4 linked regions of the Homo sapiens genome follow. The protein of the gene in region 1 interacts with the protein of each later gene in a pairwise test. Each region holds a gene or a part of one and is shown in the gene's direction. Other genes may lie near its edges. The genes, in order: CNOT2, TNRC6C, CSTF2 and ZFHX3.

The links.
Region 2: the proteins of CNOT2 (region 1) and TNRC6C interact in binary tests that used the Homo sapiens proteins (3 or more experiments, as listed by UniProt).
Region 3: the proteins of CNOT2 (region 1) and CSTF2 interact in binary tests that used the Homo sapiens proteins (3 or more experiments, as listed by UniProt).
Region 4: the proteins of CNOT2 (region 1) and ZFHX3 interact in binary tests that used the Homo sapiens proteins (3 or more experiments, as listed by UniProt).

The regions. Positions count from the first base shown.
Region 1 is NC_000012.12:70,246,424-70,253,451, forward strand, and holds part of CNOT2 (CCR4-NOT transcription complex subunit 2), read left to right. Parts: intron 1-7,028. UniProt on the Homo sapiens protein: Component of the CCR4-NOT complex which is one of the major cellular mRNA deadenylases and is linked to various cellular processes including bulk mRNA degradation, miRNA-mediated repression, translational repression during translational initiation and general transcription regulation.
Region 2 is NC_000017.11:77,961,692-77,968,719, forward strand, and holds part of TNRC6C (trinucleotide repeat-containing gene 6C protein), read left to right. Parts: intron 1-7,028. UniProt on the Homo sapiens protein: Plays a role in RNA-mediated gene silencing by micro-RNAs (miRNAs). Required for miRNA-dependent translational repression of complementary mRNAs by argonaute family proteins.
Region 3 is NC_000023.11:100,823,368-100,830,395, forward strand, and holds part of CSTF2 (cleavage stimulation factor subunit 2), read left to right. Parts: coding exon 1-61; intron 62-518; coding exon 519-638; intron 639-752; coding exon 753-890; intron 891-3,266; coding exon 3,267-3,390; intron 3,391-4,672; coding exon 4,673-4,735; intron 4,736-7,028. UniProt on the Homo sapiens protein: One of the multiple factors required for polyadenylation and 3'-end cleavage of mammalian pre-mRNAs. This subunit is directly involved in the binding to pre-mRNAs.
Region 4 is NC_000016.10:73,045,116-73,051,962, reverse strand, and holds the start of ZFHX3 (zinc finger homeobox protein 3), read left to right. Parts: upstream 1-3,834; 5' UTR 3,835-4,141; coding exon of another isoform or gene 4,142-4,211; exon of another isoform or gene 4,212-4,385; intron 4,386-6,847.

The DNA.
Region 1 (7,028 bases):
ATCCAGGGTACCAGGTAGGGCAGTTTAGGGGCAGAGTTAATATGAGGTGTACTGTAATGTTTGAGTGGAATTACATACAGTGTTAATCAAGAGATCTAGTGCTATGGTAGAACTTATTCTGCTTGATGATACAGGTGACTGTTCTTCCTTACTAAGAGCAGTTTCTACCTGTGATACTTAAAGGGATTGAATTTCACTGTGACTTATATCAGATATTTTGAAAAGAGCTGTGCTAAAGTTGATGTCATTGTAGAAAGTTTGCCTTGAAGTGGAATGAAAGTTAGGTTTTTATTTCTTTGGTTTTTCTGTTTGACATCCTTTGATTTCTATTTTAGAATTCAACTCTTATGACTAATCATGCTGATGTGGTTTGTTCATTTATTTTCTTTGTCTATACTATTAGGAATGTCCTGGAAATAGAATTTGTACTGTGTTTTCTGAGAGCTTGTTCTCTGAAATACAGATGCAAATCTGTTGGTATCTGTTGGTATATCCCTTGGGGGTGTGCTGCATTATAAAGTAATAAAACAGTTTACAATGTTTGCTTTTTGTCAAGAGCTTATGACATATAATATGGAAATACAAAAAAGTGAATTATTTAGGAAAAAATGGGAAATTTTTCCTTTTCTGGGCACTTCAGGGTTTTGTATATGCGTAGACTCAGGATCTAAGTCCACTTAGATATATAGTTAGATATTTTGGACTATTTGCCACTTAACCCTGCACATTTTCTTTTCCTTATTCTTTTTTTTTTTTCTTTGAGACGAAGTTTTGCTCGTCGCTGAGGCTGGAGTGCAATGGCGTGATCTTGGCTCGCTACCACCTCCGCCTCCCGGGTTCAAGCGGTTCTCCTGCCTCAGCCTCCTGAGTAGCTGGGATTACAGGCATGCACCCAGCTAATTTTGTATTTTCAGTAGAGACAGGGTTTCACCATGTTGGTCAGGCATGTCTCAAACTCCTGACCTCAGACGATCCGCCTGCCTCACCCTCCCAAAGTGCTGGGATTACAGGCATGAGCCACCACGCCCGTCCTATTCTTTTTATTCATGTGTATGTTATTGCATGTATGTGTGTGGGGGGCAGGTGGTAGTGCATATTTTATGTATCTTTCACTTCTCTGTTGTTTGATGAACTTCTTCCATACTCCTCTTTGGTATCACTTTCTTCATAAATCTTTCCTGACTCCCCAAATCCTTTGCTGTATTGCTTTTTACTCTTCAAACTTCTATTATAGAATGTCACACTGTATTGTAATTTACTGTCCATCTGGACTGGGAGCACCTGAGAGGTATGGCCTTGACTTGTTTATGTTTATGTTTTGAATGCCTCTATAGTGCATAATACTTAATAGGTTCTCAATACGTATCTATTAAACTGAACTGTTGCTAGATTGTCATTTGACAGTGCTGTTTCACAATCCACAGATCTGAAGCAACAGATTGGAAAAGTGGTGGGGAGAATAGCTTCCTGTATTCCTTCACTTCCTTGAATCCTTTCTTACAGTTTTGCTTCTTAATTACATATGGAAAAATAGATAACTAGCTTCTTAGGGAAGTGTGTGTAAAGTTAGTATGGAATTAGGGAAGGATGTTAGTAATAGAGTGATTAATACCCTGTTTTGCTTCTGGCAGGATGTTTAGATCTGTATTTCTTGCATTTCTCGCTGTATTTTGTATGGTTATGGCTATTATGTGAAGGAGATATTTTGTATTTGTCTTTACAAGGTATCATGTTTACCAGTACTTACCCATGAGCTCATATTAGATTTGGGGCTTCTGAAGATAGATTCTGTTTTTCTCACCTTTTTCCTCCTAATGCCTGGCCCATTGGTTAGTAGAAAGCAGGATTTCTCTAGTTTGAATAAAATTGCCCTTATGGAAATAAGGTGAGATGTGTCTTATTGGAGGTCCAAAATTTAAAAAGCTCTGAAAGTTGATCATTTCTTTTGTTTTGTTTTGAATAAGCAAGGTGAGAAAATATCAACTGGAATTATACCTGTGAATTTGATTATTATTATCTTTCTTAATCTGATTTTCCTACATTTTCATATGGAAATGTTCACGTGTTTGACTGCAGGTGTTGCCATTGGCAGATGTTACATCATATATGATACATACAACATTTTACCTTTCTCAAATCTGAAACTGTGTTTTGAGAAACATCTGGCCTTTATAGGTTTGTTTAAGAGATTGTGAGCCAATTTTCTGCCCATTTTAGAGATGTAGAAATCAAAACAGGATAGATGACTCTCAGAATTGCATTTTAGTAGATATGCTAATATTGATAATGATTTTAGGAATATTATGTCTTAATTGCCTGTATATGTTCCAGAGACCTTTTAGTGACTAAGAGCTGCCAAAGATACAGAGTGTATATTTTTAAAAAGGGAGTATGATCCAGTACTCAGGACACCAGTCCTTTCTCTGCCTTTTCTGAATGGAAATGTCTTTCCTTATACGTGAGTAGATGAAAATGCACATTTAGTAAGTTTTTACTAAAACTTAGTAAAAACTAATGATAAAATGAGTGAGGGAAAATTATGTATCCTGGCAATTTAGGTAACAGTGAGTAGACTTGCTTGTTTTTCAAACATATTGATATACTATTTTTCCATTTGTGTATTCAGATGTTGAAACAGCTCCAGTTTGTATTAGCATCTGGACAAAATGTAATGACTGATTATGTAATACAATGTGTTTGAGAGAGGAGCATTTGGTTTTGTGTCATATCTGGCAAGAATGTGCTTTTGTATTACTTTCTACATTGTAAATTATAATGCCTATCCTGCATACAAATTTTGTATTTAGTTTTCTGCTTGTAAGAATCTTTCATAGGTCAGTAAAATAAAATATTAAGTTTACTATGCCATTCCAAGCACCTGACTACTTTTGGCTTTGCTACTTAATATTTTTAAAATGTTTTACAGCTTGCAGAGAGGACTTTTATATACATTATCTTAATTTTATATATATTAAAATAAGTTTAAAACTTAGCATTTATGTTTATAAACAAGCTATTTTGGTCAATAAGAAAATTAGAAGTTGGGAATTATGAAGGCCGTTTTCATCTTCAGACTGGACTCAGAGTCTAATTTCTTTCTCATTTATTTTAGCGCTACTTTATAGAGAAAATCGTGATTTATTAAATCAAATAGATGTTAATGGAAGACTTGTTTTTGTTTGCATCTGATCATCTTGCAGATCCTGGATATTTAATCAAATTGATGCAGAAGTTTGAAAGACAAGCAGCAGTAGGAAATTTTTGTTTCAAGCTTGACTTTTCTGACAATATCCAACAGCTGCTCATATTTTTAAAAATTAGAAACATTCACTGAGAAACGTTAAAAACTTAAAAGCAAATACTGTGTTATAATGAGAATAGGTAATAACATATCATTGATGCTACACTTTACATATTATTGCACCATTATTCTGAGGTAATCATATGCCGAACAGATTACTGCACAAAGTAATGCTTTAGGGGTGTAGTTTTTATGGGAATGAACATGTCTGGCCTGAAATTAGAAAAAAAATTGGAGCCATAATCTTTCTAATCTATGCTTGCTTATGAGAAATTCTAGGTATATTTATGTCAGGCCAAACTATTTGCTACAGCAAACCGGTTAACCTGACATCTGAGATAGTCTTTAAAGTGTTTAAGTTTGGTATACAATGCACTTGTGTGTGTATATGACTCATCCTAAAATGGATGGATGTGTGTAAAAAAATTGTAATCCAATGCTTAAATGAATTTGTGAAGCACAAATAAGTGAAACACTAAGATGTTTCAGAGCATAGTTTGAAAATCCCTGTGCTCGATCACCAAAGTCACTTCCAACAGTAAAATTCTGTGTATTTTAAAAGTTCTTTTTCTATTCCCTGCACATGCAAAATTCATATAATTTAGCTGCTTTTTAGTAGTATTTGGATAGAAATTGTTTATTAAATTTAAAGTTGAGGCTCTGCTGGTTATATGTTAGCACTCTAGATGTTTTCAAGTAAATCCTTTAGTAATATGAGTGTTTAGTCTCTGCTTGACATTGTTATTGGATATATGACGGTGATCCAGACAAGTCTCCACCTTCATTAATGTAACATTCTGGAGGAGGAGACAGACAGTAAACAAATAAATAAACATAATTTCAGGTAATGGTAACTTAGGAAAAAATAAAGGGGGATAAAGGTACAGCAATTGATTAGAAATGGAAAAAAGATTAAGTAGGGTGATGAGAGAAGACTTCTGTGGAGGTATCAGTTGAGCAGAAAGGAGTAAGCCATGCAGAAATGTGGTTGAATGGTTTTCCAGGCAGAAGTAATAGAAGGCCCTGAGATAGGGTCAAGTTTTGTATGTTTGAAGATAAGAAATTTCATAAACAATTACTTAGTGCTTTCTGCATAAATGGGGGTAAGCTCTAAAGGGGAGAAGAGGTGATTAAAGCATAATGATCTGTGTCTTTCACTTCAGAAAATATTGTGGTGGACCCAGTAATCTGTAATAGGTTTTACAAAGAGCAATAGGAAGGAGGGATTATTTTTTATTAAGGTGCCTTGAAATTGTTTTCTACATCAGATGAATTGCAGGGGTTGAGGGGTGGTCTGTCTGGAGTACTGGAAAATGACATAGGAAAGCAAACTGAAAACTTTCCTTAATTCATGTGTTTATGTAGAATAATAAAACCTATACTTTTCTTAGAAATTAGTAATAAGTTTCATATTTAATTAGATTTTCTTGTACAGTCCAATAAATGTTACTTTGTGCTGTGCACTATTATAGTTGCACTGCGTAATTCCTCAAGTTAAATTTTTGTCATACTGTAGAAACATCCTAGAGTAGAGTAACTTTGTTTCAGGGAGTTAATGAGTTGGCTTCAAGGAGGTGATAAGTGAGCTCTGGGTTCTGAAGGGTGATTTGTAGTTAACTAGGTGGGGGAGGGTAGGGAATCAGCATTGTAAATGCACAAATCCTAGGAAAATGTTCTAGATTTGGAGAATGGTGAGGTAATCCTCCATAGCCCTTGATGGAATTCTGGGACCTCATAGGAGAAGTTAGTTGAAGGAATGAAGTAGCCACAGTATGAGGTCTTATCTTTTATGTGATGAGGGAACCATTAACCATTAGGAGGGGAAAAAAAAGCCAGTGAGATTGATAAGCAGATTCGTGTTTCAGGGGAAAGTTTAGATTCCACAGTCGATTTACAATTAAAATTATAAGCTTAATGGTGTATGTTTATGACATTTTTGAAAGATTATTTTCTCTCCATTAAACAAATTGAGTACTTTGCATTCATATAAGCAGGATTTTTATTTGTTAAGAACTGTATGACTTTGAAACTCTGTAGTCTATCTTTTAGAGAACTTGTTATATATGTAAATGAATGCCAACTGTTCAAGATTTTTCCGTTACTGGGGTGGAATTTTTGTATACGTTTTGGGGCAGGCAAAGTTTGAGTATTATCATCTGATGTAATGTGTTAGGCATGAGATTTAACATTCTTGGATAAATTGAAATAATACCAAGAAAATCTAAATCAGTGATAAAATCCCTACATAGGTGCTGATATTTATGTTATGTTACTAGAAGTGCTTATTTTACAATGCTATGATATGTGTTTGTGTGTTTCTCAAAATATATAACACTTGGATATATTAGGTTGCTAGCATTATCTGTTAATTGACATGCAGAAACAAATCCTAAATTAATGTTTTTAAAGAGAAAGAATTGCTTCTCTGAGAATGTAGTTTCAGCAAGTTATTTTTATTTTTATTTATTTATTTCTTTTTTTGAGACAGGTCTCACTTTGTCACCCAGGCTGGAATGCAGTATCATGATCACGGTGCACTGCAGCCTTGACCTCCTGGGCTTAATCAATCCTCCCACCTAAGCCTCCTGAGTAGCTGGGACTACAGGCGCATGCCACCATGCCCGGCAAATTTTTGTATCTTTTGTAGAGACAGGGTTCCTCCATGTTGCCCAGGGTGGTCTTGAACTCCTGCGCTCAAGCCATCTGCCTGCCTCATCTTCCCAAAGTGCTGGGATTACTGGCCTAAATTATTGCTTTTATTGTATGCATTATATACTATTTTATCATAACAAAAGTTAATGGTTCAACTATGGCATTTAGAGCTGCCCACGTAGCCTGATTGTCTATTTAGTTCACTTTTGACTGAGTAAAATGGAGCTGATCTATCTGCTATTAAAGAGAGTTATATTCTGAAATTTTACATGATGTTCATAATGCCTGGAACTAACCAGCCTGAAATGGAATCACCGTTGTACTGTTTTCAATTGGCTAGGTGACTTATTCTCCCTATACTTCAGTTTTCTCATTTGAAAAATGTAGATAAAAATAAATAAATAAAAACAAAGAAAAATGTAGATAAATAACAATACTTACCCAGTAGAACTGATGTAAGGATTAAAGTTTTTTGTGGGTTTTTTGTTCGTGTTCGTTTTGGAGTGGGACTTGTTAGGTTAAAGAGGAGCTTCTGGGGTATACAAGAATTAGCCACAATTTATTTCATAGAGTGCACTATACTCTTTTTTGTATCAGATTCGTAAATGTAAACAAGAATGCAGTCTTGCTCTTAGAGTCTAAACATGTTTTTCCTACCAGGAATTTTGTTTAGATGACCTTCTGTGAAGTAAGATGTGTAATATTTTGAGTAACATAAATAAATCGTCATATTGCTCTGTCTGTAGTACTTGGCAAAGCACAGGGCACATAATAGGCATTTAATAATTCCTGTGTTAAGTGGGATAAATCTAATGGGTTAGGATTCAGACAGACTGGTGTCTACCTTTTTCAACCTGAATAGTGCAGAGTTAGTTACCTGTAGTAGTTTTTTCTTCTGTGCCTGTTTTCTTCCTTAAAATTAATAAAATATTTTCTTCCCTTAAGTGTATTTAGTAGGTTTAAATATGACCCTGTAAAACTCCTGACAAGTAGGTATTTACTGTTGTTGGTTCCCATGCCATTTCCTTTATTTAGAGCAAAAATTGCAAAAATCCTGGAAGTTCAGAAGAAACAC
Region 2 (7,028 bases), on another chromosome or scaffold:
TATATTTAGTTGGCTTAGGAACTTTGGAGTAAATAGTTGCCTTTAGAATGCTGATTGTGAAGGTAGAGTGGAATGAACTGTTTCGTTTGACATTCGGTGATTAAAAAATAACTAAGTCATACAGAGGATATATGAAACTAAATACAGTATTTTTCATCACCGCTACCGCCACCTTTTTGTTAAACAGCTGGCTTTCCTGAGATACATTTGTGCTTTTCCAAATGCTGTCATCTGGCTTACTTCCAAAACCAAGCCAGAGGAGGGTCAGGGCTGGAGTAGGACAACCTTTCTCCTTAATGAAGGGAGTTTCCAGTTTGGAAAGAAATGGAAGACACAGTTCCTGCAGTGCTGGCTGGGAATGAGGTATTTACATTACCTCTCCAACCCCAATTGAAGGGGATGAGGTCTTGATTGTAACTTAGTCTTGCTTGGCCCAGGAAAGTGATGCTAACTTGACATTTTTTAAAAAAGACTACTGATGAAAGTTAATTGTTTGATTTGAGTATATAGAATATCTTTGGCATCGTAGAAGTTCACCAACAACCTTTTAAGATTGAAAAACCATTTAAAAGACTATTTGGGGGTCTTTTTGGCCTTCCCCAATAGGAATTGGAGCATTCGATTGCATGCTTATGCTTTGGATGACTGTTTATCTTTCAGTCAGGGTTTATTGTGCAAAGGTGATACTTAAGATTTTATAAGAAAGAAAATCGTTTGGCTGTGAACTCTAGGCTGTCCCGTATACCAAAGTAAAACACATGGGACAATTAAGATTTGGGGATAGAGCAAGCAAAGATTACCAAGAGCAACTGAAGCTGGTGGAGAAGGCACAAGAAATGGAGAGGAGGAGACAGGAACAGATTTATAGACGTCCTTGGAGCTGGCAGAAGGATAGGTTGAGGGAGCAGGAGGCGGAGTCCTGAACAGACTGAGCGTGAAAGGGTCTATATAAGCTGGGAAGAACCAGGTAACTTTATGTTTGTTTTGTTTTTGTTATCTTCCGTTGAACTTGTTTTGGCTTCTTTCTCATAATTTTAAGACATGGGTTTTTACCTTTTCTCCAGCTCTATCTCAGAGGGTCTTCAAATATTTTAGGTGAGAAGTAAGGAAATATTTTGAAGTGTTGGTGACACAGTCTTTGGTCTCTCTTGCATGACAACTGGTCCCAGTGAAGGTGACTGGATTTTAGTTACTTTAGATAGTTAACATCTTAATATTTTGTTTGAAGATGTCATAGATTTGAGTAGGGACAGCAAAATATCAGGTGAGAAGTGGCTCCTATTTTGTAGGGGGTAGATTGTACAGGTTTTCTTGCTTTTACTCAGTCTATGGCTATCCAAATTTATACAAATGAGTTTTTAAATAATTGTGTGGTCACGAGGAGAGCATTCTTTATAAAATGATATACAATAAGCTTTCTTTAAATAGACTTTAATGCAGTGGAGTCCATTTATAAATTTTCAGCTTATACATAACTTTTTAGGAATATAATTACTTAAAAATGTAAAGGTTACTTGTCAGAAATAACTATATAACCTTGTGCAGAAAGTGTATATCTGAAATTGAAACTGAGAAATGTATAATCTTAGCCAGTGAACTTGTTTGAATAACCCGATTAAAATAATGGTACAGTTTCCTATTGTACAGATCGTGCATTTGAAATGTTAATTTATTTAATGAAAAGTAAATTATGTAATTTTAAAAAATCTCCACCTGGGATATATATAACAAGGTTTTACATGTTTAAAACATGCTGAAAATCCATATCGTTTGTTCCATTTTTGGAGTTTTACTAAAAATGAATTCTTTTCTTAGCTTTAGATGTTTTCAGAGAATGAAGAAGCTATTGCAGGAATGGAGAGCTGTTTGTTAAGAATGCATTCCTCCTCTGTAGCCTTCAAAAGACTATAGAGCTGTGTGCAGAGCTAGACAATCTGGGCATCCAGCCATAAAACATCACTGCTGTAGCACAGATAGTTGTTCGCACTCTCCTGAGCCCTCTGTGGCTGCAAACCACAACAGAAGTAATGGTCTTGGGAAAGGAACACTCAATGTTATTTTGAACTCTTAATATTCTCTGTGTCTCTCTGAGTTCCAGCTATGCATTGGAACTTTGGTTTTCTAAAATATAGTAGTGATTAAGGATGAGCAATAATATAGCTTCTTAAGTATATTCCTCTTGTAAGCCAGTGGATTTAAATGTTTGCTCTAGGAAATAAGGGGTGTCTAGGAAATAAGAGTTGTCTGTCCCACCATCTTCCTCTTTATTTGCCTCTTTGTTGCAATACTTCTTTTCTGTTGGAGAACCACTGCCCTAAGACCCATATGATCACTGGGCCACACACAGTGCACATGGCCCAAAGAGTCATCTGGAATCTTCCAGATATTTTGTGGGATGGATTGGTCTAATTTGGCCCAGTTTCCACTTTCTCATGAACCTTTTTGGCATAACAAATTTTTAATTTTTTTGCACAAAAATGAAGAAGAGTGTGACTGGCATCTATTTGTATAAATCCAAATGGTTTACTCTGAAGACCCTCTCTGTTTTTCTTCTTCAGACCATTTTAGAAATTAATACTCTATTGTATCTTTATAACTTCCTTCTCTGAAGGATTGAACTACAAACCTATAGTATCACAGTGTCAAGTTGAATTATTCTCAGCAGTTGGATAACTCTTGTCTGTGGTTGAGTCCTTTACTAATGTGCAGACTGTCTTTTGACGTGGCTAATACCAGATGCAAGTTGGTGCCCAGGTGGTTATTGGGAATATGTGCTTTGTTTGATTCATTTTATGTGTGCCTTCTAGCTTATTAAGAATAAGATCTCTCACAGCTAAAATCAAGTGCTTGGTTTGAGCCTGGCAAAGATATTGTTTACTTTTTTATTCCCAAAGATCATTTCTTTTTAATTACTCTTTTAGGAAGCAGGGAAAATCTCAGTGAAAATAGCAACTGGGAATTAAACTAAGATCTGAAACTGGGAAATGGCAACGCGGGCACAGGTGTCACCTTTCCAACTGTTGTTGAGATGATGTGGACAACGGTTATTCAGAAATTACAGTGGGGAGGAGGGAGATGCACAAGTATTTTTTCTCATACTCCATATGAAATATGAAGTGCAGAGTGAGGGGCCCAGAGTGTAGGGAGGGAATTTAATAGGCTTTGTTCTTCAGGGGGCTATGGCTGATGTCTTAAACAAGGTCTTTTTTGGTAGGGAGGCACAGTAAGGGAAGAAGGTGATGGATTTGTGGGAACAAGTACATTTGAGTCACTGAGGACAATTGGGAATTGTGAAGTGGGAGTGGACGAGGTTAGAAAGCATCCTTAGGTAACCAGATCTCCATTTAAAACTAATCTGAGCATTTACAATGTGATTATGTGCCAAGGACATGAGTTTATCTTATTTAATCCTCACAACACTCCTGTGAAGTGGTTGCTTTTAACATTCCCATTTTACAGATGAGCAAAGGGAGTAATTTCCACAAGATCCTATAGCTTATAGGAGATGAAGCCAGAATTTAAACTCAATACACTTCAAAGCCCTCACATATGGAAAAAGCTTGGATTATTTTAATAGCTGCTTAATGAGTCTCTTCCTCTGTTCTGTGTCCTGCTATCCAGCTGCCAATATTAACTGACTGCCTTCTGAGCACTTTGTGTGTATGATCTCATTCATTTCTCCTCAGCAGCTTATAAGTTAGGAGCTGTGATTATATTCACTTTATACATGGAAGCTGAAACTGATGGAAGTTGAATAATTTGCCCCAAATCAGAGCCTTAATAAATGTGTCTAGGTCCTTGGAAGCCAGAGCTTGAGCTCTTTATCATTCCGCTGTGCTGCCTTCTGAAGCCTGAGCCTGATTACATCATTCCTTCCACAAAACCTTTATGTCTTCCCTGTGCAGCGGCCACAGGGGAAGGACATCAACTTCTTCCTGCCCTCCTGGAGCTGTCTTACTAGTATAGTGAGAGAAATGGGCACCAAACAAGTTGTTAAAAAAAGAGAGAAAGCAATACATGTGAAGAACGCCACATACACATATTAAAAAGTTGACAAAAACCTAAGGTAATAGATCATTATATAGCTGTATACTGGATCTCCTCTCTTAAGGACGCATGTCAAAATTTTGGATGCTCTGAGAACTCCAGCAGTGAAAGAAATATGTTTACCTTTATTGGCCCAGTATTTCCCAAACTTATGTGGCCATTGAACATTGTTTTCCCTTCATACCACTTTTTAGTTCAGTGGGACTGACTTTAACAAATTCAGAAAGGAAGAGTGCCTGGTCATCCCCAGAGAGGGCCTGTGGGCTGCAGTGGTTAGGCAAGACTTCACTTGAAATGAGTTCTGAAAGGCTGGCAAAGCTTGGTTGGATGAAAGGGATATTCTACAAGGAGACGAATGGGCAAGCCATGTTTGGAAATATTTTGTAAAGCGCGTAACATAATGGCTGAGACATAGTAGGGACGGGATATAGTTATTGACTGGATGAGTGCAGAGGCCTAGCTGTAAATGGAGGTTCTGTGTTGGCAATAAGGTTTAGAAGGGGCTCTATCAGGTGGAACCTCTAGTTGTTGGCTCCTTAGGAACCGTTGGTGGCTGTTGGTGGGCATGACATGAATCAGGTGTTGGATTAGAATCTTCCTTGAGCAGAGGTATGGTGTTAAAACTGGCTGTTGTAGCTGTCTGTGCAAGGTGATGCCTACATACTGGTAGGGTCAAACTGAAAAGCTGTTACAAAGAATCAGCAGGATAAAATAATACAAAATGATTGACGTGGGTTGTTGGAAAGAATGAGTTCTAAGAGGCATAGGGTACTTACTGCTCTTCCTAGAATCTGCCACAGAGGCTTTAAATTAATGAAGCTAATATTAAGATATTTGGTTAAATACACATAGTACATTCTTTTTAGATGCTGATGGGGAAAGATGACACACAAGATAGTAGTTTTAGGCGAGTTTATTGTATGAGGTTGTGTTCTGCAGTAGAGATTTGACTCACAGCATAAATCCAAGTATGTGATGAGCCATGTAATAATAGACGTCTGCTGTTAATTATGGTGGATACTCTCAATGAAATCAGATTTTCTTAGGGCCATACCCATAAAAAAATTCTTGACCTAGATCTTATATAACAGTCCCAGGTATATAGTAAATTTTATGCATATGGAATGTTGACAGGAAAGAAGAGAAAACAAAAATCTTTAATGTTTCAAGGAAGCATAAGATCAAATCATTACATAAATAGAATAGCAGCATTAGTAATTGTGTTGAAGTTACTAGAATTTTTAAATTTTAGGTAAACTTAAGAGATTCCTTAAACTTAAGGAATAATAGATTCTTTTTTACTCCTGTAGAGTGGGGAAACTTTAAAACAGATAAAAATATTTTTTATTTTATCAGTCAGGTGATGAATGAGGATCTTAGCCACTGTTGGACTTTTGTGTATATGTAGTGTGGCATTTAATTGAGCATTGTTATTTATTCTTTTCTATCAACTTTAGACTTTAAATTTCAGCACATTTCCTTGCAGATTAATGCTTTGCAAAAAAAACTTCATTATCATGATAATTTCTTAAGATTTGAGTTACTTATTAGCAGGGATAATAACATGTTCATCTTTGTAATCCCTACATCGTCTATAGTATTTTGAAGATATTTAGATAACAATCATCTGTTTCTTCAGAGATATTGCTTCCACAAGTCATGCGGGGGGGGAGAGAAGATTGATAATTGAACATGTTTCTTCGGTTTTTAATCTTTTAGAATAACGATCAACTGTGTTTTCAACTAGTAAGCCTGGTACGTGGGGCTGTATCTGCAGATTTGAGGGGAATTGGGAAGCTGACAGGTGAGGAACAGTCATCATAGGGGCTCCCTGCACTACTGTTTTCTGTAGGGTACCTGAAGGAGTGGCTAGTTCCTTTTCCTGAGGCCTCTGGGCACTGCCAATAAGTGCCACTGACCCAATCATGAAAAAACAATGTGTGACGCTTCTCATGCACAACAAAATTGTAGGTATGATAGATCAATTACAAGGTAATTCCTGGCTTGTCTTTCACAGATTTGATGATGGTCTTTAGATACTAGCCCATTGGAAAAATGAGTGTTATGACTAATGAGATTATTCTGGCCAAGCCAGAATGTCTGGTTAGCATTATTCTGGATAGACTTATATCCCGCCCTCCTTTAGGGAAAACTCTCTGGAAATAAGAGGATTTTTAAAAAGAGATTGTCAGTATTCTTTTTCTTGAAATCAATTTATGTTTACTCATAATTTCAGTACTCCTTTAAAGGTTACTTTATAAAAATTTGAGATGTAGTTATTATTCTTATTATTCTTATTCTTATTCTTATTTTGAGACAGAGCCTCGCTCTGTTGCCCAGGCTGGAGTGCTGTGGCATGGTCTCAGCTACTGCAACCTCTGCCTCTCAGGTTCAAGCGATTCTCCTCCCTCAGCCTCCTGAGTAGGCGGGATTACAGGTGCCTGCCACCACGCCCAGCTAATTTTTTGTATTTTTAGCAGAGATGGGGTTTCACCATGTTGGCCAGGCTGGTCTCAAACTCCTGACCTCGTGATTCGCCCACCTCGGCCTCCCAAAGCACTGGGATTACAGGCGTCAGCCACCGCGCCTGGCTGAGATGTAGTGGGTTGTTGTTGTTGTTTGAGACGTAGTCTTGTTCTGTCGCCCAGACTAGAGTGCGGTAGCGTGATGTCAGCTCACTGCAACCTCCGCCTCCCGGGTTCAAGCGACTCTTCTGCCTCAGCCTCCCAAGTAACTGGGACTACAGGCGCCCGCCACCACACCCAGCTAATTTTTGTATTTTTAGTAGAGACAGGGTTTCACCATGTTGGCCAGGATGGTCTCTTATCTCCTGACCTCAGGTGATCCGCCCACCTCGGCCTCCCAAAGTGCTGGGATTACAGGCGTGAGCCACCGTGCCCGGCCCGAGATGTAGTTATTTAAATAGCTTATGCACATGCCTATTTAGCCTTGGATGGCAGAATTTTGATTGGGTAGATCTT
Region 3 (7,028 bases), on another chromosome or scaffold:
TAGCAAAGCAGTTGCCAGCCTTCCACCAGAGCAGATGTTTGAGCTGATGAAACAAATGAAGGTGGGAGGAGGCATTAGGTTATGAATAAAGCAAATCACATCAGGTTTTCAAGGAGTTACTTGAATTAGTTCCCTGAGCTCAAATAGAAATTGTCTGTAGACCACCATTTCTTGCACCTTCAATATTCTGTATGTACACAGTATATTTTACATTTTGTACAAAGAGCTTTCTATTTTTGTACACAAACACAGCTATCCAAACAATCCAGCTGGAGTTTTGTGGCCCATAGATGTCAGATGTAGATATTAAAATTTGGCTTTTTTCCTAAATGATAATATCACAGTATTTGAAATGCCTCTTTCTTCTCTTGCCTGCCATGACCAAGGTTTTTTTGTGCCATGCAAAAACTAATGATAAAGAGCCTCTTGAATATTACATTTCTCAGAGGGGAATGGCTCTAAATCACTATCAGTTTCTAAGTCATAAGTATTAAACCTGAATCTGCTTATCTTCTCAGCTCTGTGTCCAGAATAGTCCCCAGGAGGCACGGAACATGTTACTTCAGAACCCTCAACTGGCTTATGCTTTGCTGCAAGCACAGGTAGTGATGAGAATTGTGGATCCGGAAATTGCCCTGGTGAGTGCTTCTGGTTCTTTTATGGAAATGGTCGGGTAAACCTTGAATGGGATAGGAACTACCTGATTGCTTTGTTAAACAGACAGCTCATAGGTTTGTCTTTTCACTTTTTAGAAAATTCTGCATCGCCAGACAAATATCCCAACGCTGATTGCAGGCAACCCTCAGCCAGTCCATGGTGCTGGGCCTGGCTCAGGATCCAATGTGTCAATGAACCAGCAGAATCCTCAGGCCCCTCAGGCCCAGTCTTTGGTAGGGCTTTATCCCTTAACATTTTTTTGTATCTGTCTTAGAATGTCATTTTCTTTTTAGGAGAATATATTGAAAGAAGAATGGTCAGGAACCAGAGATGATAATTTCAATTTCCAGGCATAAAAGCAATTTCCAGGTTGCAGAGCACATGACATCTGAATGAATATAGATTCGATTCCAAGTTTGTAAAACAAAGAGATCCTTCCCGTATGCCCTTTTCTTATAAGCTAACTTTGTGTGTATGTGCATGCCTGGCACTGTGGTTGGCACTTCGTTATTCCATATGCATTATCTCATTTAATCCTCAAAGCAATTGTATGAGGTTGGCACTCTTATTATCTCCATTCTTACTGATGAAAAAAGTAAAGCTTGCTTTCAAAGCATGACACAAAACCTTAAAGCCATAAAAAATTGATACATTTGAAAACTAAAAAATTTCTATATAAAGAAAAAAATAAGTATCAAAGACATGACAAATTGAGAAAAAGTATTTACCACACATGTGATGGAAAACAGACTAATAAAGAGCCCATAGTCATTCACAAGAATGTTTATTGCCTTAGAGTGAAAAATTGGAAATGTCCTAAATGTACGTCAGTGGAAGAATGGAGAAAATGTGTGGTACATTCATCCAGTGAAATACTGTACAACAGTTAAATAAACTACACGTATCAACATGAATGACTTTGAAAAACATAATTCCATACAGCAGTTAAGATGAACTAGGATACATAATATCAACACAACTCCAAAACAGTGACATACGGACATGAAACTAAGTGAATATGGATGCATTCCCGAAATGTAGGATATATGTTTCTGCATAAATCCCCAAAATATGTGGAATGAGTTGCAAAATAATATATTGAGTATGTAATGATTCATATAAAATTTTGAAACATTAAGAAGACGTCTTAGTGGTCATCAAAGGAGAAGAGAGCACAGGATGCAATTGGGGAAGACCGTACAGGCCATTGGTTTATTTTATTTACTTATTTATTTCCTAAGCTGGGTGGCTATTTTATTTTCTATATGATTTGTATATCTGTAATTTTTCATAATAAATTTTAAAAGGCCTCCTATAAATTAGTAAGAAAATTTCCAATAACCCAGTAGAAAAATGGGAAATAGACATAAATATTTCACAAAAGGAGAAATATAAATATATAAAAATTTATTCAACTTCAAAATAAGATAATGTAATAAATTATCATTTATATATGTAATGTTATAAGATAATGTAAATAGAAACTACAATAAGCTACCATTTTTCATCTCTCAGGTTGGCAGAGGTACAGGGCAGGGACCAGCAAACATTTTTCTGTAAATGATCAGACAGTAAATATTTTTGGCTTTGCAAGTCACAGGATCTGCCACAGCTACTCTGCCATGGTAGTATGAAATCAGCCATAGGCAATAAGTGAACAAGTGTGTGTGGTTGTGTTCCGTTAAAAGTTTGTTTATAAAACCAGGCAGTGAGCCCGATTTGGCCCATGGGTCATAGTTTGCCAACCCCTGCTCTAAATAAATAAATACATTTTCAGAGATAGAAAAAAAAAGCTAAGGCCCAGAGAGGTTAGCTGGTCCAAAAATTGACACAATTATAAGTGGCAGATCTATTTCTGAACCTGGTTTTATCTGACCTCACAGCCAGTTTTCTCTTAACTACTTTCCTATACAGCTCTTCCTTTTCTTTTGTAGAGTTTTGTGTTCCTTAAACGTATATGTGATTTTTTTTATATAACTTGGCTTTTATTCTTTATTTATTGAGCTGTTTCTAATTCAAGGGACTACTCAGTTTTTTGGGGAATGCACAGATGAAAAGATGACATTCTCTTTTTCTCAACGAGTTTTAATGTAGCATTTAAAAAAATATATTTCACATTCCCCCAAAACCAGAATTATATCTAAGGACAGGAGTGAGAAAAGATTGGTTAAATTAAAAAAAAAATTTAATTTTAAAAATGTGGACTACCAGCAGTTGTTTTTTTTAAAAGAGTCCCAGTCTCCTTTTATGTTTCTTGGGTTTAGGGCTTTTTTTTTTTTTTTTTTTTACTCTTATTGGCAGCCCCAATCATGAAGTTAACAGTAGGTGTTATGTGCTGCCTTGCCACACAGATAAGACTTGTCAATCTCTACATTGAGAATATGTTCCATCTTAACCGTGTTCCATATAACCAGGCTCATGACGTATATTGCTTCTGTGGAGTTTAAAGTGTGTGACAAATCTAATGCTGCATAAGACATGCCATACAAAAAGGATGTTTAGTAGTGTATTTGGGGCTGTTCATTTGAAGAGGACTTTTAAGGTCGTAGACTTAGTATATTGAGTATCCACAGAGGCATATACATACTCTGTTTTTTTTGCTTGGTCAGGGTGGAATGCATGTCAATGGCGCACCTCCTCTGATGCAAGCTTCTATGCAGGGTGGAGTTCCAGCACCAGGGCAAATGCCAGCTGCTGTCACAGGACCTGGCCCTGGTTCCTTAGCTCCTGGAGGTAAGTTTCATTTAGTCTTCACCATTTCAGTACTTGCTAAAGTTTTGTCATAGCCACTGTTGCAGTGCAGCCAAATATGATAATGGGATCCTTAGGTAAAATTAATACACAGCTAGAAAGTATATATCTTAGGTGGAGGAAATAGTAGATTTCTTACGTTAAATCCTGTATGTCTAATTATAAGAACAGGGAAAGGGACAGTAAAGTGAAAGAGCATAGTAAAACTTCCAAGTTAACAAGGGGGAAAATGGAATGAGTGGAAACAAAATCAAGCCAGCAAAAATAGAGAAGAGGAAAAAAGTAAGAGACAGTGTAAAATAAGTAATAATAAATGTAGAGTAAGATGGAAGGAATAAAAACTAATGTAGTTGTTACTCTGCTAAATATGAATGAACTGTCAGATTAGGTTCAAAAGCTCATGAAGAAAACAGACAAAAAAATACAAGGTCACATTTGTTATAGCATATTAAACTGACATAAAATTGTATTTTAACAAACATAATCAGAACAAACAACAAAAGGGAAAAAGAGAAATTTAAAAGCTATGTACATTTATTGAAAATGTATAGATCGGCAATTAATAAGAGTATTGCTCATATACTTGTAACTGTTCCTTGTTCAACAATTGTAACTAAGAAGATTGAGTGAAATAATGATTCCCCATATGAAACATCTGTATGAACACATGATGTATTACCAATATTTAAAGTTTTTTTATGTAACAAACTTGGTTTTTGTTAATTTATCTAATCTAGGGTAGGTTGAGTACAACACTACTCATGGAGAATGATTTAATTCTAAATTGTTCTGTTCTGTAGAGAATCCAGTCTGCAGAGCTAAGTTGATGAGGAATGGAAGAAGAGATTTTTTGAAGAAATTTCTGCAAACTCAGGAATTTTTTGTATCTACTTTAGGATTGTTATGTATCTACTTTATCCTAATAGAGTTATACTTGTATTTAAATTATCTTTCATGACAGGAGGTCCATGGGTAAGTGACATTGTTTTCCTGTATTATAGAAGAGCTTCCTGCCAAGAGTTTGGTAACCAATGAAATGAATTATTCTTATTGAACTCACTATTCTGTCACTGAAACATAAAGTACAAATTGTAAATATACTAACAAACCCCATCTTCTCTCTCATTGCATTGTTGAATATCTTCCTTTGTAGGTTTCTGCTTGTGGAGCAGAATGAGGAAATTTGTAAACTCAGCCACTGTTCTAATTTTTCTTTTCCGCTGTTCTAATTGGTGTTTTTTCTTGTCTGCCCTTTATCTTCTAGGAGGAATGCAGGCTCAGGTTGGAATGCCAGGAAGTGGACCAGTGTCCATGGAACGGGGGCAAGGTAAATAAATATTAATGTCTGACTAATGTTAATTGGTCATGGAAGTGTTCCACATCCACAGTATCTAATATGGCAGCCACTAACCACCCATGGCTATTTCAATATTAAGTTAATTAAAATTAAGTAAAATTTAAAACTCAGTTCCTCAGTCACAATAGCCACATTCCAAGTGCTCAGTGGCCACAGGTGACTAGTGGATACCATACAGGACATTACAGATATAGAACATTTCTATCATCGTAAAAAGATCTATTGGACAGTGCTGGTCTAGACTTTCCACCTGGTGATTCAGAGTCCAGCTCTACAAGAATTGATAATGAAGCAAGTGGATCGTTTGTTTCCTGATTCCTAGTCTAATAATTCCACTGACATGTTCTCTCTCCCTGTATGGATATCTGTTGACTGAGTAAGGAATTTTAATAATGAGCATGTAAATATGTGGCTGGGTATGTAGAAGACTAGATTTAAACCCCAGAGAAAACTGGGAGGGAATCATAGGTCTGTAACGCCTACTTAATGAACATATGTTGTACCGTGGCTGTACTGCTATATACAACAGTAGCTGCTGCTCCAAAATCTCCATGTTGTTTCTTCATGTTACTGGAGTTTGAAGGACAAGAAAGTGCAGTGGTTCAGTTGGAAACAATGTTAGGAGGAGAGATCGTAAGAAAAGAGAAGGAACTGAGTGCATACTATATGCCAGGCACTTTAATTTTCATAAATAATCTTGTGAGTTAGGTGGCAGCACCTCAGTTTTACAGGCAAAGAGTTGGAAGCTCAGAATAAGTTACTTTCTCAAGGGGACAAGGTAAGTAAATATTAATGTATGAGTAATGTGGACTGGATTTGGTGCTCTTATTTTCTCTTCCAACTAGTAAGTGGCAGAGCTAAGATTCAGAAGTCTTTGACTCCAGAATCTGTCCTCTTTCTGTCACTCCACACTGCCTCTGTTAACTTCCAAGCATATTCTTCAGTGTCTTCTACTCTTATTCCTTGGGAATAAAATGATGGGAAAGACTGCTTTGGACAAGCATAGAGAAGCTTAAGGTTTTTTCTTTTGTAGCATATGGTTTATAAGTGGAACCCATTTAAAAAGCAAAATATTGGCCAGGCGCAGTGGCTCATGCCTGTAATCCCAGCACTTTGGGAGGCTGAGGTGGGTGGATTGCTTGAGCTCAGAGGTTTGAAACTAGCCTAGACAACATGGCAAAACCCCGTCTCTATAAAAAATACAAAAACTAGTTGGGCAATGGTGGTGTGCACTTGTGGTCCCAGCTACTTGGGAGGCCGAAGTGGAAGGATCACTTGAGCCCAACAGGTTGAGACTGCAGTGAGCCATAATCGGGCACCACTGCACTCCAGCCTGGGCAACAGAGCAAGACCCTGTCTCAAAGAATATATATATATACACACACACACACATATATATACACACATACATACATAAACATTAATATACAAGCCTGTGGTTTTTACACTGGGGTTGGTTGCTGAAGTGACAGAATTAACTTTTTCTTGTTAGAAGTCTGACAGCAGGACAAACTCCCTGGCCAAATATCTCATATTTTCTCTAAGCATCCAATGCTTTTGTGCTATTGTACATCCCTCTATCCCCACCGCACCACTGTCAATAGATCATATATGTTCCCCAGAGTATTTCTGCAGTAATGAGAAGGTATTAGGGTTTCAGTCATACTTCTGCCTGTCATGGGGCCAGCCCTCAATCCATCAGGTTTTAGCTGTTTAACGCATACTTGCACAAGACATCTTCCTATTATAGTTATCTTCACCTTTTTGTCAGAAATTGGCAAAGGGAAGTGACTCATGTTTTGAGGGTATTTCCAGGATGTCTTCATGCAGAGACTAAGTGAGATGAGCTTTCTTTTATAGTTTCCTTCAGTACCCAGCAGAGGAAGCAAGAGTCTTTTCGTGTGTGCCTAGTTTGTCTTACTTTTCCTGAAATCCATGCTGCTTTTAATGCTGAAAGGAGATGGAGATGTTTGAGAAGATACTTCTTGCTTCCCTGCCATGTTTGTTTAGTGTCGGTTCCCATGTCATCTCATTAGTCTTTGTTTGCTGTTGTCATGATGTTTATTATCAAAGACTTGCTGTGGCAGAGTATTTCTTGTGGAGTGATATTCTCTTTCATCATGTAAAGTTCATTCACTGCATTTCCCCATCTGATACATTTTTGACAGCAGAAATTTTTGTGCTTTAAAATGTGACAAAAATAGAATTGCCGTACTTCAGTTATGGCCGTTTCAGAATGAATCTTGCCTTCCAGATTCAGTGC
Region 4 (6,847 bases), on another chromosome or scaffold:
CTTAAGCATCTGTCCGCCTTTTCATTAAAATTCTCAATTTCAAGGTTTAGAAACACAAATGTAAGAATCCCCCTGTGTTTAAAAGTCTTGCATGGCAAATTCCCTTTGCCCTTTCAGAAATAATATTTTTGTTTAAAAAAGAAGGAGCGAGAAAGAGAGAGAGAGCTCTTTACCTAACATGTAAAGCTGTTTTAAGGCAACTTCTGTATTTTGGCTTTCTTAAAACTTGGGGCTTTGTAACTTAAAATTAATTTAGAAAAACTCTCCGAAATCACAGCTTTTAAAAAATGGTTACTCATTTGTATCTTTGTTGTGGGATATCATTGACAGATTTAGCACCTGAGCTGGGGAGGGTGGGTAAGGAAATTAGATAATGTTCCACCTACGATTTGGGGGTAAAAATTAATCTATGGAATTAGCACTGTAGGGATGGATGGAGGCCTTGAGGCTTCAGCAGAAAAATGTGAATCAAAACATCTGTGTGCAGGCCTTGGCACACCAGCTTCCAATGGTTATGAAGGCAAATGTGAGCTGTTCTGAGGAACTTCTGCATTCTGTTCCATACCCAGGAGGGCTCGGCCACCCAGCGGGTACCAGGCCCCTAAATATAACTGCCTCAAAATCATGGGGTGAACTCAGGCCAATTCAGCTCCAAATGGTTCCTTGTTTATTTCAGGAACGTTTGTTTTTGTTTCTTGCCCTCTTCTGGATTTTTCTTTGTTAAAGCCTCCGGGTTATTTAAGCACTAGTTTTAAAAATCAATGTATACGTATAATTTAATAAAAATAGAAGAACCCGGAAGGGTGCACAAATCTGTCTAAACCCGCTGTACTGTGAAAAGAGAGCCCAGGTTACGCTGGAAGTCAGAATGCTGACATCCACTGTATCTTAGAGATCATATTTACCTTTGCAAAAGTGGAAGGATACAGCATTAGTAAGTGTGTATGTGTAGAGAAAGAGAGAGACAAGCAGGTTTGGCTCGGTAGAATCATTGTAATTTACCAGCCAGCTCAGCGTTAGGGGGCAGGCCTCTGGCTTGGAGAGTGGGTAAGGGGAGGAGTAGGGAAGGGGTTAGCGCTCCCTGATTTATTTTTAAATATTTATCCTTTCGGCTGTTGCCAATTACGCTTTCCAGATGAGACGAGACTGGGTATGGAGAACTGCGAGGGAAGAATTGCCTTTTCTGAGAGTGGGTTTATTTGTCAGCAGTGTTCAGGATGGAGCGATGAGAATGTCAGGCTGTCACTGCTGGGTAGGCCATGGGTTTAACATCAGGCAGCTGCCCTCCGAAGAGCCAGGGCTTCCAGAGCTGGAGGATAGAATTTGCAAGGAGTATTTCAGAGGAACTCCTGATTTCATATGTAAGTGCAGAAGTTGCCAATTCCCTCTGAAGAGGTATTGTTTTTATGAATAAGGAAAATGAGTTTTAGTAGAGGTGACACCCAGCTTGTGTGTAGTCCCTCATTTCCATAATGTACAGAGGCCATAGATCACCTGCCTGTGGATTACCTGTTAAATTTTTGCCTGGAACAAAGGCAGGCTTGACTAGGCCTCATCATGTGTGTAGCTGGTGCCAGATAAAGAAAAGGAACTCAGGGTCACTCTCAGTTCTACTTGTCAGGCCTCTCAAGTGCAGGAGGCAGGTTGCAGGGTCTGCCTCTTGGGACAGTGGCAGTATTAGGGCAGATCCCGTCCGGGCCTTCTGCCCAGGCAGTGCTGCATCCTCCCAGGTTACTTTAATAGCTTGTTCTTTGGGCTTTCTAGCTTTTATTTTATTGAAGGTATTTGTCTGTGGGCCTACCAGGATCATGATGTCACCAGATTACGAGGTTGTCCCCTGTTAATAAAAATGAAGATAAAGCAGCAAAATTAGATTTTCTGAGAGTATCAACATTTTCTTGTTGTCTTTAATTTATCCAGCAGGCCTTACCTATCCCAGGTAAGGAATCTTCGTTTTTCCGGAGAGATTGCCAGAGGCATCTCTGCGTTGTGGGCCACGTTGCTTGCGGTCCTGCTAGCATACGTCATCTTCATGTCTTATTCATAGTCACTTTTTCAATTAAATTATTAATTGTTTTCTTTAAGGTGTTCTCAACTTATATGGCCAATATAAATAACAGTGTGTTTTGAAAACACCACCTGTTCTTGGGCCTGAAGTCAGGTGGTCTGGAAGCAGCTCTGCAGTGACCATAGTCTGGTTTGCAAACTCATCCTCCACCTTCCCTGTTGGCTCTTAACTCCCCCCACCCGGCCCCCGTGCTCTCACGTGTGACTGAATTGGGCTTGTGCCCTCCTTTGTCCCTAATCGGACATGATTCCCTGGAGGCAGTCTTTTCTCCCAGGGCCTTAGCTGAAATAAATAAATAAATAAATAAATTTCCCCAGAATCTATTCTGGACTAAAATGTAGAAAGGGGCTGTCTGTACCCAACAGGTTAGATACTTACATTAATCTGAACCCAACTTACATTGTGCAAAAAGCCTTCTATACGGGGATGTGATGGTTTTCACCAGCTAAGCATCCCTTTTTCTCCCGAGTCAGTGTGTGCCTCATGCTAATACAATTCCATACATACTGCTCTTCGCCTCATGAGCTGATTATATTTCTAACACTTGCATGGTTCATTATTGTGCCCGAGGAAAAGACTCTCCAGGCTGTAAGGCCAGCCTGGGTGGGTGGTTTTCAGAAAGGGTAAAAGCAGGTGCCTTTCTGTGCTGTGAGAATCGGGAGTAAATTCAGACTGAGGGTGGGATTCTGACAGGGAGGACAGAGGACTTCCGGTGAGATTTCTTTGGGGCTGGCTTTCAGATGAGAATGGAAAAAGGTGGACTTGGGGAGATAGAAGGCGCCCAGCAATCGCTTTGACCAACTGGAAAAGGTGAACTTGGGGAGATAGAAAGGCGCCCAGCAATCACTTTGACCAACTGGGGTGGCCGCTTTAAATCTTACCCTGGCGGTAGGAACTCCCTGGGAAAGGGCACGATCTTTGCTATCTCTGCGGTGATGTGGCTTTATAAGGTGAGGCTAAGGAGCCTGGAGGCTTACATGGTAGACTGCATCTCCTTTTCTTCCCACTTCTTTTCTTCCTATCTTTCTAGTGATCTCTCCTTTTCTCTTTCTCTGGCCTCAAAAACTATCCTTAAACTCTCAACGGAGAGCAGGGGGATGTTTTTATAAGTTTCTGCAACTGAAAAACAGAAGTGCTCTGTAAAGCAGTTAATAGGATGGGTGTGTGTTTCCAATAAATTCCTGTCCACATTGGCTCCTGTCCCCATGCTTGAGTGGCCTGGCTGTGACGTGGACGGGGCCCAGGGAGCGATGGCTCCGGTTCGGAGGCCTCAGGCTCCTTTTAGTGGCCGAGGGCGCGTCCCTTTCTTCTCGCCCGATTCTAGGCCGGCCCCTGACCTTTGATGAGCGAGGGGTCAGCGCCTCCGGGAGGGCCTGGGCTTTGTTCCCGCCGGGGCCGGTTCCCGGGGCGGCGCAGGCCGAGCGGCGAGGGTTCCTGGCCCCAGGCGGGTGCGCGGGACCCCCGGCCTGCCCCAAGGCCCGCGCCCCAAGCGGAGCGAGCGCAGCTGAGCGCCCGGGTCCCGCGCGTCCCTGTGCGTCCCCGGGTCCCTGCGGGCGGGCGGGCGCGGTCGCCGCCGAGCAACCCGGCCTGCGCCCGGCACGACTGTAGATGTCAGGCTTTGCCCGGGGAGCCGAGCGGCAGCGGGGCTGTGAGTTTCAAATTAACCTTCCGCTTTGTTGCTGTGTAATGTGGATCCCCGAAGGCCCCCCGCCCCGCCCGCCCCCCTTCCCCGGGCGGTGCGCGCTGCAAACTGCGAGTTGGGCTTCATTTACATAAAGCGATTCCGGGCGGGCGGCGGCAGAGGAGGAGGCGGCGGCGGCGGGCAGGCCGGGGACCCGGACGCCAGCGCCGCGCCCCGTGGGTGAATCCCCGCCGCGTCCCGGGGACCTCCCTCCGGGGACGGGCCGACCGCCAGCCCTGCCGCCACCATGAGCTCCCCTCCCCTGTCTCCGGGCCCCCTGCTCCTGACCAGAGCCACCTCCGAGTCCTGGGGCCAGCGGGAGGTGGGGAGCATGCCGCCTGGGGTGGGTGAGCTCGGGGCTCGGGTGCCACTGGAATTTCCCGTTGTTGCGCATGGCGGCGCGGCCCCCGGACCTGCAAGTGCCGCCTCCCTCCGGAGGTGCGCGGAGGCTTGGTGTGCCAGGTGAGTGCAGCCTCCCTCCGGGTCCGCGCAGCCGGCCTGGAGCCGCGGGCAGGTGCTGCGAGTCTTGGCTGAACTTCCCATTCTCTTGGGGCGTGTGGGGGAAGGGCAGGCTGGATGCACTTGAACTCCCAGACTCCAGTTGCCACCTACCTAGGGTGAGAGCGCCTAAATTCTGCTGGGCACACAGTAAAGCTCTTCCTTCCTCCTTCCTTCCCTTCCCTCTGTCCTCCCCTCCCTCCTCCTTTCCTGAGTCTGCTTTTGGATTAGTTCCTGCCTTCTGAATACTTGTGGTACTGGTGTCATTTAGAAGTTTGGGTGCCTCCGCCTAAAAATGCACCCTTTTCAGCCCTGGAGAAGTCGCTGGTCAGTTCGAAACAATGTGAAGAATGCGCTTGTGGAGTAATTAAAGGGAGAATCAGAGTTTTGGAGCTGGAGGGCACCTTTGGAGATCATCTTGTCCACCCTCTAATTTTAGTTTTTTCGCACTCTTGGAAAAGTCAGAGCATTTATTTCCTTGGGCAGGGGCGGGGTGGGGAGCTGATGCAAAGGAGAGAGTCAAGATTTTTATCCTGTTAGGAGGAGGAATGCCTATGTTTAGGTCAGTAGCAGAAAAACAATAACAACAAAAAGAAGCATTGTAGGCTTGGAGGGAAACGAACCTTCTGGAAAATGTTCTTTTCTGCCTTGGACACACCTGTGTTATGATAGGAAAAGGCCTGGAGGGCAAAGACTGCAGCTCACGCATGGTGTGTGCTAAGAGGGAATTGCGTGGCACAGTGGTACCTCCTGTGTTAAACTGGCTTAAGTGAAAGCCGTGAGCAGGTGAATCCAGGAGGGTCATCCCTCCCCCCACCCTCTGTGTCATTTAACAGTCCTTGAAGACTCCCTAAAGCCACTGACAGAAAACCCCAGAGAGAACAGATGGCTCTGCCTGGGCACAGAAGGAAGGCCTCTCCTTCATACTGGGTCCTGCTTGTCAGAATGCACCAGGGCAAAGCCTTGAAGGTAGATTGTGAGAAAGTTACACATCATCTTATTTCTCTCTATGCTTTGAGATCCTTGGAGACAAGTCACTAAATAAATAGTGTATAATTTAAAGCTCACCCTAGCTGGGGAAACTCTGTTTCCTTGCCGTCAAGCAGCAGGTGCGAGTTTGTAGAGTTGGCCCCTCGAGTTCCCTCATTCCTGAATTCAGGAGGTGTCAAATCTTCACGTTCAGTTAATGGCTGTGGTTTCTGGATAGGTTTCAAGGGAAACCCTGAAAATCACGAGTTCCAGGAGGCTGGGCTGGAGGAGGACACGAGAGTGCTGTGGTGGGGACTGCATTGGGTAGGAAAACATACACCTTCCAAGGTAACCTGATCAAGAAAGGCCGTAGCAAGAAACATGAGTCTGCTCCTTGTTATCAGAACAGCCACTGGCAGCCTGAGATTCTGAATCCCTCTTGCTACTCAAACATGAAAAACAATGAAGGCAAAAGTGAGGTGTGAGGGAAGTCAGGAGACCACGGTTCCAAATAATTGAAGGGTTTCAAGAATGGGGTCTTCACAGAGAGGTACATACCTGGATGTTTGCACGCCTGTATTTGTGTTCATTCTGTTTTGCAGAGACCCTGCAGGCACCCTTTCAGAGAGTGTGTAGCTATGATGGCCAAAAGAAACTTTTTCTCTCTCCCTTTGCTAAATTACAGGACTAAGGAGTTCTCCTCATGGTGTTTCCAGCATAGTTTTCAGAAAGCATGTAAAGTGCCTCTCAGAGTGGGCTGGGGTCACAGTTGGCTCTTTTATTTAATTACACAAGTGTTATTTAACAACATGGAGCAGATGCAGAAGCGAGCACTTTTAGACTTTAAAAACAGCCCTTTCAGAATCACAAGGAATTAAGTGACTTGGAGACCTTCTGTCTTTATGACATGGGTCACTTCCCTCTCTCAACAACCCCCCCCCACTTTTTTTTTTTTTTTTGAAATGGCTGTACTTTCTATGAAATAGAGCTACTGTTTTCCATTTCTCCTGAAAACAGTGTTGATGAACAGGGAACTATTGAGAAACACTTGCTAACTATTCAATAATAATAATAATAATAATAATAATAATAATAATAATAATAATGTAAATCCATGCTGCTTCCCCAACCACCTGAAACTTAATTTTGGTTCCTTTTCTTCCATTTTTTGTTTGCACAAATGAATGTTAAGGGAGGGTTGGAAAGGCCCATCTAAAACGGTGCCCTCCACAGGCCCCTGCCTGGCTCTTCCCACCAGGACAGTGAAGTGCCTGCCTTCTTGCTGCTTTGAGGTTGAATTTAACTGCTGTGTCAACTCAGTGCCAATTGGACAGCCCAGTGGCAAGGAGCTAAAATAAGCGAGATTTAGTTTTCATCATTATGACTTTAAATGATGCTTGCTAGACACTCCCAGGACCGGCCTGGCTCATCTTTGGTGACCCAAAAGTGGTTAGTTCATTAGAATAAATCTGTGATTACAGACTGCTGGAAAAGTATTTCTAGGGCTAGTGGTGATGTGGCTTAGTTCTAGCATCCAGGAAACATGTCCTTATTGTCACTGTGTGCAGTTGTTCCTTTTTGGTGTATCTTTCAGGGGTAGGAGCTTTTTTTCTTCCACCTACAAAGTATCA